Homo sapiens: one gene and its partner. The protein of the gene in region 2 interacts with the protein of the main gene of each other region in a pairwise test. Each region holds a gene or a part of one and is shown on either strand. Other genes may lie near its edges.

Region 1 (5,201 bases), on a different chromosome or scaffold from region 2:
GAAAAGGGCAATTGGGTCCAATCCCCCTGGGAGCCTCTGGGAGACGACATAGAACAAGCCTCACAGTTCCTCTGCCTGTTGAAGGTCAACTCTTAAGTAAGACGGAATTTAGCTTGCAAGCTGTTTATGAAGGTGCATCTTTGGGGTCAACATCAGTAGAAAGGAAGTGATGTTTGTGGTGTCTTATTTACACCAAAGAAATTCTCTAATTCTAACACTAGCTTCCTGGAGTTAGCACCACATTCCACAAATTAAAGGGCTAGGTCCCAAAAGACTGACCCTGCTTCAGATGCCAGGTGCAAAGACAGTCTTTGCACTGTCTACCCACACTTCTGCCAGGCTGGCAAAAAATTGTGGCTTCCCATAAGTCCATCTCAAGTTCAGTAATTTCCTAGAATGATTTAGAGAACTCGGGAAAACATTTTGCTTATGTTGTTGCCGAACTAAATTGGGTCAGTTCCCTGGCTCACAGTGGAAAACCAAACACTGAAGCACTGGGGTTTTGTAGAGAGAAAAATTTATTGCAAGGCAGCCAAGCAAGGACACAGGAGTCTGGCCCAAATCTGTCTCTCCAAGTTGGAGGCTGGGGCAGATTTTATATACAGAGGGTAGTGAGGCATGATATGATTGGATCTTGTAATGAGGGGATTCAGGAGGCTTGATCTGACTGGATCACGCCAGGGCTCAATCTGATTGGATCAAGGATCATGCCACGTGGTGTCCACTTCTTAACTCAGTCCCTGTTCCTCGGTCTGAGCACTTAGGTTCCACGTGGATTTGCACGCTTCGTTCATCTGGACATGCCCAGGGTATGTAACTTGCAACCTGGGGGTCCACGACAACTGAAAAACAACTCGCCATTTTATTACACAAAGTTGAACCAGATTGGGCTGAATCTGCGGTTACAATGTTTACCAGTTTATTATAAAGGATACAACTAGAGGGGCGGGGCGGTGCCGGCAAGATGGCTGCGCCCGAAAAGGTGACATTTCCAGAGAAACCAAGCCACAAAAAGTACAGGGCCGCCCTGAAGAAGGAGAAACGAAAGAAACGCCAGCAGGAACTTGCTCCACTGAGGGACTCAGGACTCTCACAGAAAGAGGAGGACACTTTTATTGAAAAACAACAACTAGAAAAGCTATGGGGAAGAGAGAGGCAAAGATTACATGAGGAGTGGTTGCTGAGAGAGCAGAAGGCACAAGAAGAATTCAGAATAAAGAAGGAAAAGGAAGAGGTGGCTAGAAAACGGCAAGAACAAGAGCGAAAGTTAAAGGAACAATGGGAAGAACAGCAGAGGAAAGAGAGAGAGGAGGAGGAACAGAAACGACAGAAGAAACAAAAACCGGAAGCTGTCCAGAAGATGCTGGATCAGGCTGAAAATGAGTTGGAAAATGGCGCCACATGGCAAAACCCGGAACCCCCCCTTGGATTTCAGAGTCATGGAGAAGGATGGAGTTAATTGTCCCTTCTACAGTAAAACAGGAGCTTGCAGATTTGGAGATAGATGTTCACATGATTTCCCAACATCCAGTCCTACCCTTCTTATTAAAAGCATGTTTACAGTGTTTGGAAAGGAGCAGTGCAGGAGGGATGACTATGACTCCGAAGCAAGCCTGGAGTACAGCGAGGAAGAAACCTACCAACAGTTCCTAGATTTCTGTGAGGATGTGCTGCCCGAGTTCAAGAACGTGGGGAGAGACTGGGCGCGGTGGCTCAGGCCTGTAATCCCAGCACTTTGGGAGGACGCGGCGGGCGAATCACGAGGTCAAGAGATCGAGACCATCCTGGTCAACATGTTGAAACCCCGTCTCTACCAAAAATACAAGAATTAGCTGGGCGCAGTGGTGCACGCCCAGCTAATTTTTGTACTTTTAGTGGAGTCCCAGCTACTCGGGAGGCTGAGGCAGGAGAATCGCTTGAACCCGGGAGGCGGAAGTTGCAGTGAGCCTAGATCGCGCCACTGCACTCCAGCCTGGCGACAGAGCAAGACCCCATCTTTAAAAAAAAATAGTAATTAAAAAATAACGTGGGGAGAGTGATTCAGTTCAAGGTCAGTTGCAACTTGGAACCTCACCTGAGGGGCAAGTATATATGTTCAGTACCAGTCGGAAGAAGAATGCCAAGCAGCTCTTTCTCTGTTTAACGGACGATGGTATGTACGCAGGACGACAGCTTCAGTGTGAATTCTGCCCAGTGGCTCGGTGGAAAATGATGATTTGTGGTTTATTTGAAATACAACAATGTCCAAGAGGAAAACACTGCAACTTTCTTCAGGTGTTGAGAAATCCAATAGAGACCTCTGCTTGTCTCCTCCTTTGGCAAGAGCTCCAAGGGGAGAGAGAGGGTGGGCCACCACGATGAATACTACAGGCTGCGGGGAAGGAGAACCCTAGTCCAGACCATTCCTACAAAAGAAATGGGGAATCCGAAAGGAAAAGGAAGAAATCTCACTAGCACATGTCAAAGAGCCAGGAGAGGCACAATTCACCTAGCAGAGGAAGAAATAGTGACCGCAGCGGGGGCCGGTGCAGCCGCAGTGAGAACGGCCGGAGCCGTCACAGCCGGAGCCAAAGCTCCTCTAGATCCCAAAGTCGTGGTAGGAGGAGATCAGGTAGTAGAGACAGAACTGTTCAGAGTCCCAAATCCCAATAAACCTGTTTTATTCTTACAAAAAATAATAGGCCAGGCGCGGTGGCTCACACCTGTAATCCCAGCAATTTTGGGAGGCCGAGGCGGGCAGATCATCTGAGGTCGGGAGTTCAAGACCAGCCTGACCAACACGGAGAAACCCCATCTGTACTAAAAATACAAAAAATTAGCCGGGTCTGGTGGCGCCTGCCTGTAATTCCAGCTACTCGTGAGGCTGAGGCAGGAGAATCACTTGAACCCGGGAGGCAGAGGTTGCAGTGAGCCAAGATCGCGCCATGGCACTCCAGCCTGAGCGACAAGAGTGAAACTCCATCTCGAAAAATAGTAATAATAATAATAAAATAAAGAATACAACTTAGAAACAGCCAAATGGAAGCCATGTATAAGACAAAGGAAGATGTGGGGGTGGAAGGGGTTGCGTGGAGCCTCCATGCCCTCTCTGGGTGCCATTGGTTGACTGGGGGAATTAATTCCCTGGTGCTTCCAGCCTGCAAAATGAGCTCTTGCAACCAGTAAGTCCCCGATCAAAGGGGTGCAGGAGGTGGTAGGTGGAAGTTGAACAGATGGTAGGTTTGCATGTATAAGATAACGCCCCAGGGGACATAGCAGCTACACATGGCAACCCAAATATCCTAATCTCCAAAAGGAAGAGAGAGTGGATTCTTGGAACACAAGTCCACCCCCAAAGGCATCCCACACCAGCTCACTCATAAAGCTCCAAGGATGGGCCAGAAAAACAAGCTCTACACCAGGGGAAATTGGAGGCATGACAAGAAGGACAGAATGGGACCCAGCCTTCTAAAGGAGGAAGAATCTGACAAAGAACAGTCCCAGAGATTTTGTGAAGGTCGAAGGATGGAGAGAAGGAACTGTAGCTTAAAAGGGGGTGAAGTTCTGCTACGCAGGAGGGGGGTTTGGGGTGGCAGGGGCTGGAGAAAGAAACTGTTCTTCATCCCTGGAGCAGGAGGCTGCGGACTTTTTGCAGATCCAGAATTTGGCAAGATTACATTTGTCGTCGTTCCAGCCATTGCCACTAAATTCCGCGCAGTCTTCCTCCCCAACGTTGTTGGGCTCTCCTCTGTTCCAATACTGCTTGAAGCTGCAAAGCCCATGCGGAATGTGAGCCTCTGTCCCCGCCAGCTACATGAGCTGTGTTTCTACCTTCTGTCATCTTGATGCCTTAACATCTGCCCTGCGTGTGTATGCTGGACTTGAATCCCTCTGCATACCTGATAATATGCCTGACTCACGATGCCTTGAGTTCCTGCCTCTCTTCTCACAACCTGTCCTTGGGTGGACTCCACCTATTGAGTGTGTGATTTTCAAATACAAGCCAACCAGTCTGGAGTCCACACCTCCAGCGACCTGCCTTACTGGGCTCTTGTACTCCAAGCCACTATCCTGTACTAATCACCCCAAGGCCAGGTGTCAGACAGCGAGGGGCAGCCCCTGTGCCCCAGAGCCCAAAAAATGCTTCACACTTCCCAATCCTAAGCCTGTTCACCTGGCCTTGACCTTTCCTTTCCACAGAAACCATAATAAAGGCTCTGGCCCACAGTCCCCCCTCCCCACCACTCTGACTCATAACAGACCCTGGTGCTTCCCCAGGTGGCCCCCAGCTGTGATGTGTCCTCTCTCTAGGGATCTGTGTATATGAGAAGCTATTCACAATGGCAGGTGTCTCCTGAGCTGGTGGCCTTACTGGACCTCAGACTTCCTATTAATACATTATATTTTAATACACCTCCCCGGTGGCAGGCTCCTCCTGCAGCTCTGCTGGTGGAATTCTAGGCACCTGCCATGCTGTCTGGAAGTGGGTATGAAGACCACCTTCCTCAACTCAGTAAAACCTCCAGATTCTTGGGTCTAGGGTGTCAGGGAGTTGGGGAGGATCCCCAGGGAAAGTTCAAATCAGAGTTTCACAATTCCAGCCCCAGTGGATAGGGTGCCCCTTCTGAGATCTACCTGGGCAACAGAGGTGAGCCGTCCACCCATTGCCACGTGCCTTCCTGATTTAGATCTGAAAGTCCCATCCAGGTGAAGCGGTTACTTCTGGAAGACTGCAGCTGTAGGAAGTTCTGGAGGGTACAGGAGGAGTCAGGAGGGAGCTCTGCTTCCCATTTTCCAGGCTCTGTCTCCCCATCTCTTGGTAGGAAGTTCTGCTTGTAGGCTAACCTACAGCCTTCTGGTATACTAGGTCCTGAGCCCCCTCGTGTCTGAGTCCCTCTCACATGTGTATCCCACGGCACATGTGTCCTGACATGCACACATCCATGCACAGCTGGCCTCTCCTCACACCCTCTTGCTAATACTGCATGTTTATCCATTTCACATGTTCTGTGCATGTCCATGCACATTTACTCATAACTGGGCTTAATGTGTTGGAGCCAGAGGCAACCATTTCCTAACTGCTGGTCATGCACATCTCCTTTCAGCTCTGCACTGAGTGACATCACAACGACAGCTTGAAATCAGCCACCATGGGAATATTTACACCAGGGAAACTGGCAAACACGACCCATCAGGACTTCTTCCTCCAGAGAGCTGGTTGT
Region 2 (8,807 bases):
AATAACATTCAAACTGTTAAGATCATGAAAGTCAAGGAAAGACTGAGGAACTGTTTCAGAATGGAGACTACGTGACATGGCAACTAAATGCAACACATAAATCTGAGGATTAGATAGCATAAATGCATCAGCATTAGTTTCCTAAGTTTAGTATTTGCATTGTAAAGACTTTGTAGGAAGTACACACTCACTGGTGTTGGGGTATAATGTTGGCAGCTTACTCTCAACTAGTTCAGAAAAAATTCCTTTGTACCATACCTGCAATTTTTCTGAGCTAGAAATTGTTGCAAAAAAAATAAAAACTTTAAAAAAAAAAGAGGATTTACTCATAAGCTAGATTTAGTTTCTCCCATCCCAAATTCTAGTTAACTAATGGAAGAAAACACCAACTCATAGGTACGAAATTTCAATTAATGCTTCCAAGGCTTAGAACAAGCTACTTTCTGGCCAAAAACTGCCACTTAGACTTTGGCACTACAGGCTTTTTTATGTTACACAATCAAGTAGGACCAGTGTAGAGACTTTTCTCACATAGGACCACATAAAACTTCATTCACATTTCTCTTAATTTGATAACCTTCTAATCTGCTTTGTGCTATGGTTATTTGTACACATGTACAAAAAATTGGTTGCTACACTCTAAATTCTATATTGAGGGTAGAAATGCATTCTGTTCATTTCCTTTACAACATTTAGGAAAAGCCATGTGCCACGTACTGTACTAGGGAGTAGAAAACAAAGACACTCTCTTCGATCTTAATTACCATCAAGTAAAGCCATGAAACCACATACAAGATACTAAATTGTTAAACGGGAGAAAATAGAGTGGGAGAATGCTTCTGTCTCTAAAAAGGGAAAAACAAAAATATCTCAAAACACAGTTCTTGAAAAGAACAGTCTCCTGGATCCTCACTGACAACTAGTTCAGAAAGACTTTTAGTATTTCTCTTTGTGCAATTTAAAAGGTTAAACTAATAAATCCTTATATCAAATAAAACTAAGCTATAAACAATGCTAGCAATTATAGCAAATAGGCAGATGTACTGTTCTTCAACAGCTAAGCCTGTGAGAAACACATGTTTTCAACTTGAGTAACCCTAACAGTAGCATCAGGCCTAGGAAGACGTCTGGACCTAGAAGTCTCCACATTCAGCCCCATCTGCCACAATCTCGAACTGCAGACTGATGAAGGCAGAGAGAGAAACTGACACAAACGCAAAGGCCTCAGAGTTTATAAAAATCTTAGTTTAAATACAGAAATAAAGAGAAAAAGCTTCTATATTAAATATCTCAATTTAAGTTCAGAATAAAGTCCCTACATATGCCATGATGCTTCACCCCATACTTCAGCCAACTCAGGATGGCTAAAGAATGTAAGTGGAATCAGAAAGAAAAACTGGAATTACCTATGTTAAAATAAGGTATATGACTATTTCTTGTTTTTGTTTGGGAGATAGTAGTGCCTGACAAATATTTTGCAAACCTTAAAGTGGAATTCTCTACATAGGCACAATCACTCCAGCACAAGTCAGGAGGACACTGTTCTTACACATGCTTTTAATTTGTTCTTCTGTGTCTCCTCTTCCTCACTAGTAAGAATGAAACAAAAACATTGTATCCACTTAATGTAAAGTGGAGCCAGCTCTTGGAGCCGGCTATTTTCTTCCTGTGATACTTGTCTACGTTACCTGGAATTTTAGAAAGAATTTATTAACTGCAGGTTCTTTCCTATAATTAGGATAAAAGCATACAAATATCTTAAGGCTTTTGGATCATCAAGCTGTTCAATAGAGAAAACGACTAAAACCTAGCCCTCAATTCCTAATCCTGACATTTCCCGGTTGAGGAGTTTGCAAAATAGACTTCTTACCAATATTCATAAAGTTACTATTAACATAGTAATATTAAATGGTCTCAGAATTTCACATATAAGTAAGTCTTCCAGTAGTTAGACAATTGGTGGGGAGCTAAAAATTGAAAAACTTCTTAGAGGAAAAAAATACAACATACAACGCTGACAGATTGTAACGAGTTTTTTCCTTAGAACCAGATTGTTGTTAAGAAATATTCTTTGAGCTATTTGGTAATCATGAGCTCATCTTCCCACACAAAAATATCACGCTGGGTGAAGTGGCTCACGCCTGTAATACCACCACTTTGGGAGGCGGGGGAGTCCCTTGAGGCCAGGAGTTCAAGACAAGCCTGGGCAACTTAATGGGACCCCCATCTCTACAAAAAAATTAAATTAGCCAAGTATGGTGGCTCGATCCCGCACTGCTAGCCACCTGGGAGACTGATGCAGGAGGATCGCTTGTGCCCAGGAATTGGAGGCTGCAGTGATCCCGCCACTGTATGCGGCCTGGACAATACAGCCAAACCCTGTCTCTAAAAGACAAAAGTCACTAAACACATAACGTTCACAGCAGCACCTCTTAGGAGTCGCAATGGTCTGCATAGTTGCTATTTATCCCTGTTTAGTGCAATTTGTATGTCATCTTTTCAGTTCCCCATTAGTAATAATTTTTTAAAAAGTCATCTTAGGGAAGACTTCCCTGTCACTTTTTCTCTTCGGTGCTCCTTCAACACATAAAATGCTAATTACTATTATATAGTAAATATCAAAACGAACTTTTCTATTTATTCGTCTAAATAGACAGTACTTATACTGTTTCCTAGCACCAGGCACAATGCCTTGTCAATTAACTCCTTGCACGTAGCGAAGTACTCTACAGTTAAAGACAACAAGATTATATCCTGGAAACATGCCAGGCCTTAAGAAATTATTTTTCTCAGACGTGTTTGGAGTGATAACACTGCCAAGTAACGGAGGTATAATAAGTGATTCTCAAGATAATTAATCCTACGCAGCTACAAACGCTGTAAGGTAAAAACAATCATTTTTACAGTTATCATTTTTATTCTTACTAGTTTTGTAACTTTTAACTTACTAGTGTTATATTATTATAACACGACGTAAAGGAATAGTGCGTAAAGGAACTGCTATGTACCAATGAGACCTGAGCAGGGCACACAAGACTGAAAGAAAAACAACCCCACGCAAAATCTAAGTCTTGCAGTTTTCACTCCTCGCGTCTCCAGTGTCCACGCATCCGCAGTCCTGTTTTTGTATTTCGCCCAAGATACACCCCTGGGCAACCTCAGGGTGCGAGGAACCCAGCTCTGCCTCCTGCTCCCCGCGGCTCCTGTACTACCCAAGGCTCGCGATCTTCCATGACCCCTCGAAGTTGCCTCCCTTTCCCGGGCAAAGAAGGGGCAGCGACCCCGCCTCGCCCGCCGGACCGAGCCAGGTCCAGCCTGGCTCCCCCCTGGGGCCGTGCTTCCCCCGCCCCCAACGGTCCTCAGGCCTGGGTCTCACCTCTCCACCCACTCCCTCAGGAAGCGCATTTCCTCGGTGTGCAGAACGCTCGGATCCTGCTTACACATTTTCACAAAGGCCCGAAGCTCGTTCACTTTGCGGGGGTCCATGGTAGGGAGGTGGTGGGCGAAACTGGGGGGGCTACGGCCCGGTTCCAGGCCCAGGCGCTGGCTCGGCGTGACCGCGCAGAAGGGGGCGGCTGCCGCAAGACAGAACAGACTAGAACCTCCCCGGCCGCTGGCTCCTCCCACCCAACGGTCTCGTGACCTCGGGTCCTCCGCCTGCTCATTCCTACTCCCTCTGCGCTGCTCCTGCGCGCTCCCTAGAATCTTCTAGAAGCGTGGCTGTTCGTGCTGTTGCCTGCCTCCCTGCGCATACATTCTCATATTCTTAACTAGGAACCAGCTCCCTGGATGGGGCAACCCCAGAAATGGGCGACTTCAAGGAGGCGGGAGATAACATCCCCTCCAGGGGGCGACGTCCAAGAGCATATTGTGTGGCTGCGTGCACTGAGTAGAGCTCAACGCCCGGGACCTAAAAAAAAAAAAAAAAAAGGGCGTGGAGCCGGAGGGTCGGTCCCAGCTCGGGGCATGACGTCACAACCTGCGCCGCCGCGCAAGGAAGGCCCGCGAGCCGCCTCCGCCGGAAGGGGAGGTGCGGCTGGCCCGGTTTCCTGGCGACGCGGCCCTGCAGGCGGTTGCGTTCCCCGTCGTTACCCTCTTTCTCTTCCCGACGCGTGAGTTAGGCCGTAATGCCTTGGCTGCTCTCAGCCCCCAAGCTGGTTCCCGCTGTAGCAAACGTCCGCGGCCTCTCAGGTTAGACTCTTCTCCCACGGTCTCCTCCCATGGTGTCCCCTGGAGGGACCCAAGTTGGTCTCAGGCGATCCCTGGTTCGGCTGACCCTTCTCCTGGTGGGGCCTCCGCTCCCCAACCCTCTGTGCTCCGCGGATTTCTTCTATACCGGCTGCTCCTGGAAAGGGGTGGGCCCAGTGTGTTCTCTACCGTTGAGGTATTTTGTGAAGCCGAAATGACTGCAGAGAGAAAAGTGTGCCATCCCCCAGAGGGGCTGTCTTCCAAGTTACTCGGACTCCGAAGTTGTGGCAATTATCACACTTAAGTGACAAAGTGTCTCACATCAAGTAGCTCTTGTTTCTGTTAGGCGTGAGAGCTTGCTCCAGAATATACACGAAGCATGTTTAGTAACAAATTCTTTCAGCAGCTCCTCTTAGGAGAGGTAACTGTTTCGAAATACTTCTGGGGCGTTCTGTGTCTGAAAGTCCTGTTTGCAAAGACAAGACGAAGGATAAGGAGAATAATTTTTTGTAGGGTGTCCTCTATTGCGAGCAATTAATCTGATGAACATAAAGCTTAATCAGTGAAAACTGAATCACCTTCCTTGCAGGCGGATCTGCCATTGGATCGTATTTCAGTTTTTTGGGTCAATATATGAACAATGTGTGAACCAGAACGTATGGTATTTGACATCAAAGCTATGTCTTGGCATATGTTTATGTTGATATACTTGAATTCATTTAAAATGGAATGTTAATTACATCGACTTCTTACTATAAAAAATAAAAAGTTATTGTCCAGTGCACAGAACTTGTTCTTCAGTTCTCATAGTAAAGCTGCAGAAAGACAACTCTCCGTGGGATTAGGTGAAAAGAAAGATGTGCAATTTTTCAGTCTTTTTTTGAGACAGGCTCTCATTCTGTTGCTCAGACTGGAGTGCAGTGGCAATCTCTGCTCATTTGCAACCTCTGCCTCCTGAGTTCAAGCAATTCTCGTGCCTCAGCCTCCCGAGGTAGCTGGGATTATAGGCGTGTGCCACCACGCCTGGCTAATTTTTGTAATTGTAGTAGAAACCAGGTTTTGCCACGTTGGCCAAGCTGATCTCGAACTCCTGGCCTCAAGCGATCCACCCTCCTCTCTGAGCCACCGCCCCAGGCCTGGAATTTGCTTTTATTTGAAAGGCTCTCCCCAGCCTGACTAAAGGAGCCATACTACCAGAAGGAACACTTGCAAAGGCACAGAACTCTAAAACGGAGTGGCCAGCACTAAGCGTTGCAATCGTTTAGTATGGCTGGAGAAGCTTTTTTTTTTTTTTTTTTTTTTTTGAGACAGAGTCTTGCTCTTGTCGCCCAGGCTGGAGTGCAGTGGCGCGATCTCTTGCCTTACTGCAACCTCCACCTCCCGAGTTCAAGCGATTCTCCTGTCTCAGCCTCCCGAGTAGCTGGGATTACAGGCGCCCGCCACCACGCCTGGCTAATTTATGTGTTTTTAGTAGAGATGGGGTTTCACCATCTTGGCCAGGCTGGTTTTGAACCCCTGACCTCGTGATCCACCCGCCTCGGCCTCCCAAAGTGCTGGGATTACAGGCGTGAGCCACCGCGCCCGGCTTAGGAAAAGATTTTTTGAAAGATGTTCTCAAACAAAATAGTAGGCATTACACGAAAATGATTCTGTGATCAAATACTTTTGGGGAATGCTGCCTTTCATAATGTACATAATAGTTTAATTCTTTTTTTGGAGATGGGGTCTTGCCATGTTGCCCAAAGTAAACTTGAACTCTCACCTCAGCTTCTCAAAGTGTTGCGATTATAAGTGTGAGCCACTGCACCCAGCCCTTAATAGTCTAGGTTTCTGAGAGATGTGTTCCGCAGTAATTTGCAAAATGTGTAAAAATGTATTTGACCATGGACCCCTTTTCTGTGATGAATCTTGAACTGGTATCCCTGGAACAGATTTTGGGAGAAGTTGGGCTAGAGCATAAGATGAGTACAAGGAGCTGATAGGAAATCAAGTTGGGAAAAAAGCTGGTGGCTGGCTCGTGGAGGGCCTTGTATATTATGTTAAGCAAACAATTAGCTTTTTCCTTTAGATGGTGGGAAAACTTTGAGGAATTTTAAGCTATTGAGTAAGATGATTAAATCTAAATTTTTGGTTTTCTGTTAAGAGTGAAGAAATGGACTACAGGGCATGTCATTACATTCTTAAATTTTCTGAGACACTGATTTTTGCTTTAGTTTTTGGAAAATTGCAATTTTTTTTTCAACTTTACTACCACATGCATGATAACAGATAAACTCTACTAAATATCACATCTTATATTAGAAGCATTTAAAATACCCTGGGCTTTTATTATTTTATTTTCTGAAAATAAACTTTGAATACTAATTGTCCGCAGTCTCTTCTATAGAATAAATAACCTTTCCTTCTCCCATCTGCCCACTAAAAATCAAATACCGATACAAAACACAAGCTCTTGACTATAGCTGTCTTTTAAAAATAGCAGATATTATAATTTTTTTCTAATTTCGCATTTGTATTTGGCCAAAGTTGAATAAGTTTTAGTGCTGCTAGATGTAACTCAAACCATTTGCTCGATATCTGATGTATTTGTAACCCATCTATTTTTCTCCCAACATGACTAAATTAAAATGGCTATAGGTGCTATTTTAGAGTAATGTATTTGTAGATTTTGTGTACAAACTCTAAACAAAAATAGAAAATTTCCTGTCTGGAGTGATTCACTGATGGCCTACCATACAGACTGCTCTGAGGAATTCAGGATAAGACTGGCCTTTAAAAAAAATGTGGTAAAATATACTACATAAAATTTACCATGTTACCCGTTTTTTAATTTTTTAAATTTTCTATAGTTTTTCTTTAGAGACAGGGTCACACTCTCAGCTGGAGTGCAATGGCAAGATCATAGCTCCCTACAACCTCAAACTCCTGGGCTCAAGCAATCCTCCCACCTCAGCCTCCTAAGTAGCTAGGCCTACAGGCACGTACCACCACACCCAGCTAAATTTTTAAAAAAGTTTTTTCATAGAGGACAGGTCTCATTATGTTACCCGGACTGTCGTGAAATTCTGACTTCAACCCTCCTGCCTGGGCCTCCCAAGATGCTAGGATTACAGGTGTGAGCCACTGCACCCAGCTAAGTCTATTTCTAACTTAAAATACTTTATACTTTAATTTTTAATTTGTAGTACCTTTAAGTTATAATGCATCAAATGCTGTTCCTCCATTGGAAAACAGCCATTTCATGAATAATTGTGTAGTCTGAACCTGTGTGTCTTGATACATTCTTGTCTTCTAATGCTATGCATGTTTCGTAAGTTTGTATAGTGGTTTTAATTAGAAAAAAGAAAAATAGGCTATAAACTCTACTAAAGAAAAATTCAAAAGTAAAAAACTCATTGCAGTTTTCCAAATTCCTTTTTTTTTTTTTTAAGACAGGGTCTTACTTTGTCACCCAAGCTGGAGTGCAGTGGCGTGATCCCATTACACTGCAACCTATGTCTTCCAGGCTCAAGCAGTCTTTCTACCAGCTTCCCGAGTAGCTGGGACTACAGGTGCACACCACCACACTTGGCTAATTTTTAAATTTTTTGTAGAGAAAAGATCTCACTATACTGCCCAGGCAAATTCTTATTAGCACCAACTGTCACCACAAACTCATCCTTTTCTGACATACCCATTCAAAAAAACTACTAACCAAATGTCCACAATCCTGCTAAAAGTGTTGAAAAGCTCTTAGTATAGTATTAAGTGTTATCTACAAAATTTGTGATTAACCAAAACACACACAATTGTGTTCAAATGTTATATATTTGAAGAGTCAATTTAACAATTCCTTTTGGTAGACTTCTTTTGCACCTCTTTACGCTTCTTTTTTTTCCTCTTACCACCCTCTTTGACTCCTGCTGAGAAAATAGGGGGATCTCTGTTGCTGGTAACCCAAGATATACCTCCCTCATCATTGTCCACGAAAGTATATTGAGATACATGTTTGGAGCTGTGAGAATTTGGTGAATAGTTGTTGAATGACTGTGTTCTCCAGCTGCATTCTTTTGCAAAGCCCTCTTCATTGGCCACACTATTTACAAGAAAAAATGTCAACTCTCCATTATCTTCAGCTTCTCTTTCTTGATCACTTTCAATAATTTTCTTTGTATTAATATTTCTGCCATTAACGATTTTGTCTGAAGTTGTAACAGATATGTAGTTGTCCATCCCACTATTATCAAAAGCCAGGGAAGAGAAAGAAGTAAGGCCTTCATGCCCCAATGAACCCTGTGATGTATATCCTGTATCATATGAAGAAAATTTCTCAAAAATTGGATATTCACTGGCAGTGGAGAAAAAGTATCCTGCATCTCTGTTTCTGTTTCCATAGGAGCTTCCTGGACGATTTAACAGGTCCTCAAGCGAGTCTTCAAAGAAGTGAAAAGAAAATGGATCCCTTTCATGAAAAATTTCTTTAAAAACATCATCTGGCTTATGGAATGTGAAGCCGTACTCACATTCATCATCAAAATGACTTCCACCTCCGTTTAATCCTTCTGTGCCATATTTATCATAAATGTCCCGTTTCTCATCATTTGATAATACCTCGTATGCCTCAGCTACTTCTTTGAATT

Evidence for each region. Proteins that work in one complex are often made in the same cells at the same time.
Region 1: the proteins of ST13 (region 2) and CD209 interact in binary tests that used the Homo sapiens proteins (3 or more experiments, as listed by UniProt).

What each region holds. Positions count from the first base shown.
Region 1 is NC_000019.10:7,739,493-7,744,693, forward strand, and holds the end of CD209 (CD209 antigen), read right to left. Parts: intron 4,728-5,201; coding exon 4,615-4,727; intron 3,749-4,614; coding exon 3,547-3,748; 3' UTR 501-3,546; downstream 1-500.
Region 2 is NC_000022.11:40,853,055-40,861,861, forward strand, and holds the start of ST13 (hsc70-interacting protein), read right to left. Parts: upstream 3,586-8,807; 5' UTR 3,487-3,585; coding exon 3,377-3,486; intron 1-3,376. Other genes in the region: XPNPEP3 (xaa-Pro aminopeptidase 3), read left to right, coding at 4,128-4,191; DNAJB7 (dnaJ homolog subfamily B member 7), read right to left, coding at 8,011-8,807. UniProt on the Homo sapiens protein: One HIP oligomer binds the ATPase domains of at least two HSC70 molecules dependent on activation of the HSC70 ATPase by HSP40. Stabilizes the ADP state of HSC70 that has a high affinity for substrate protein.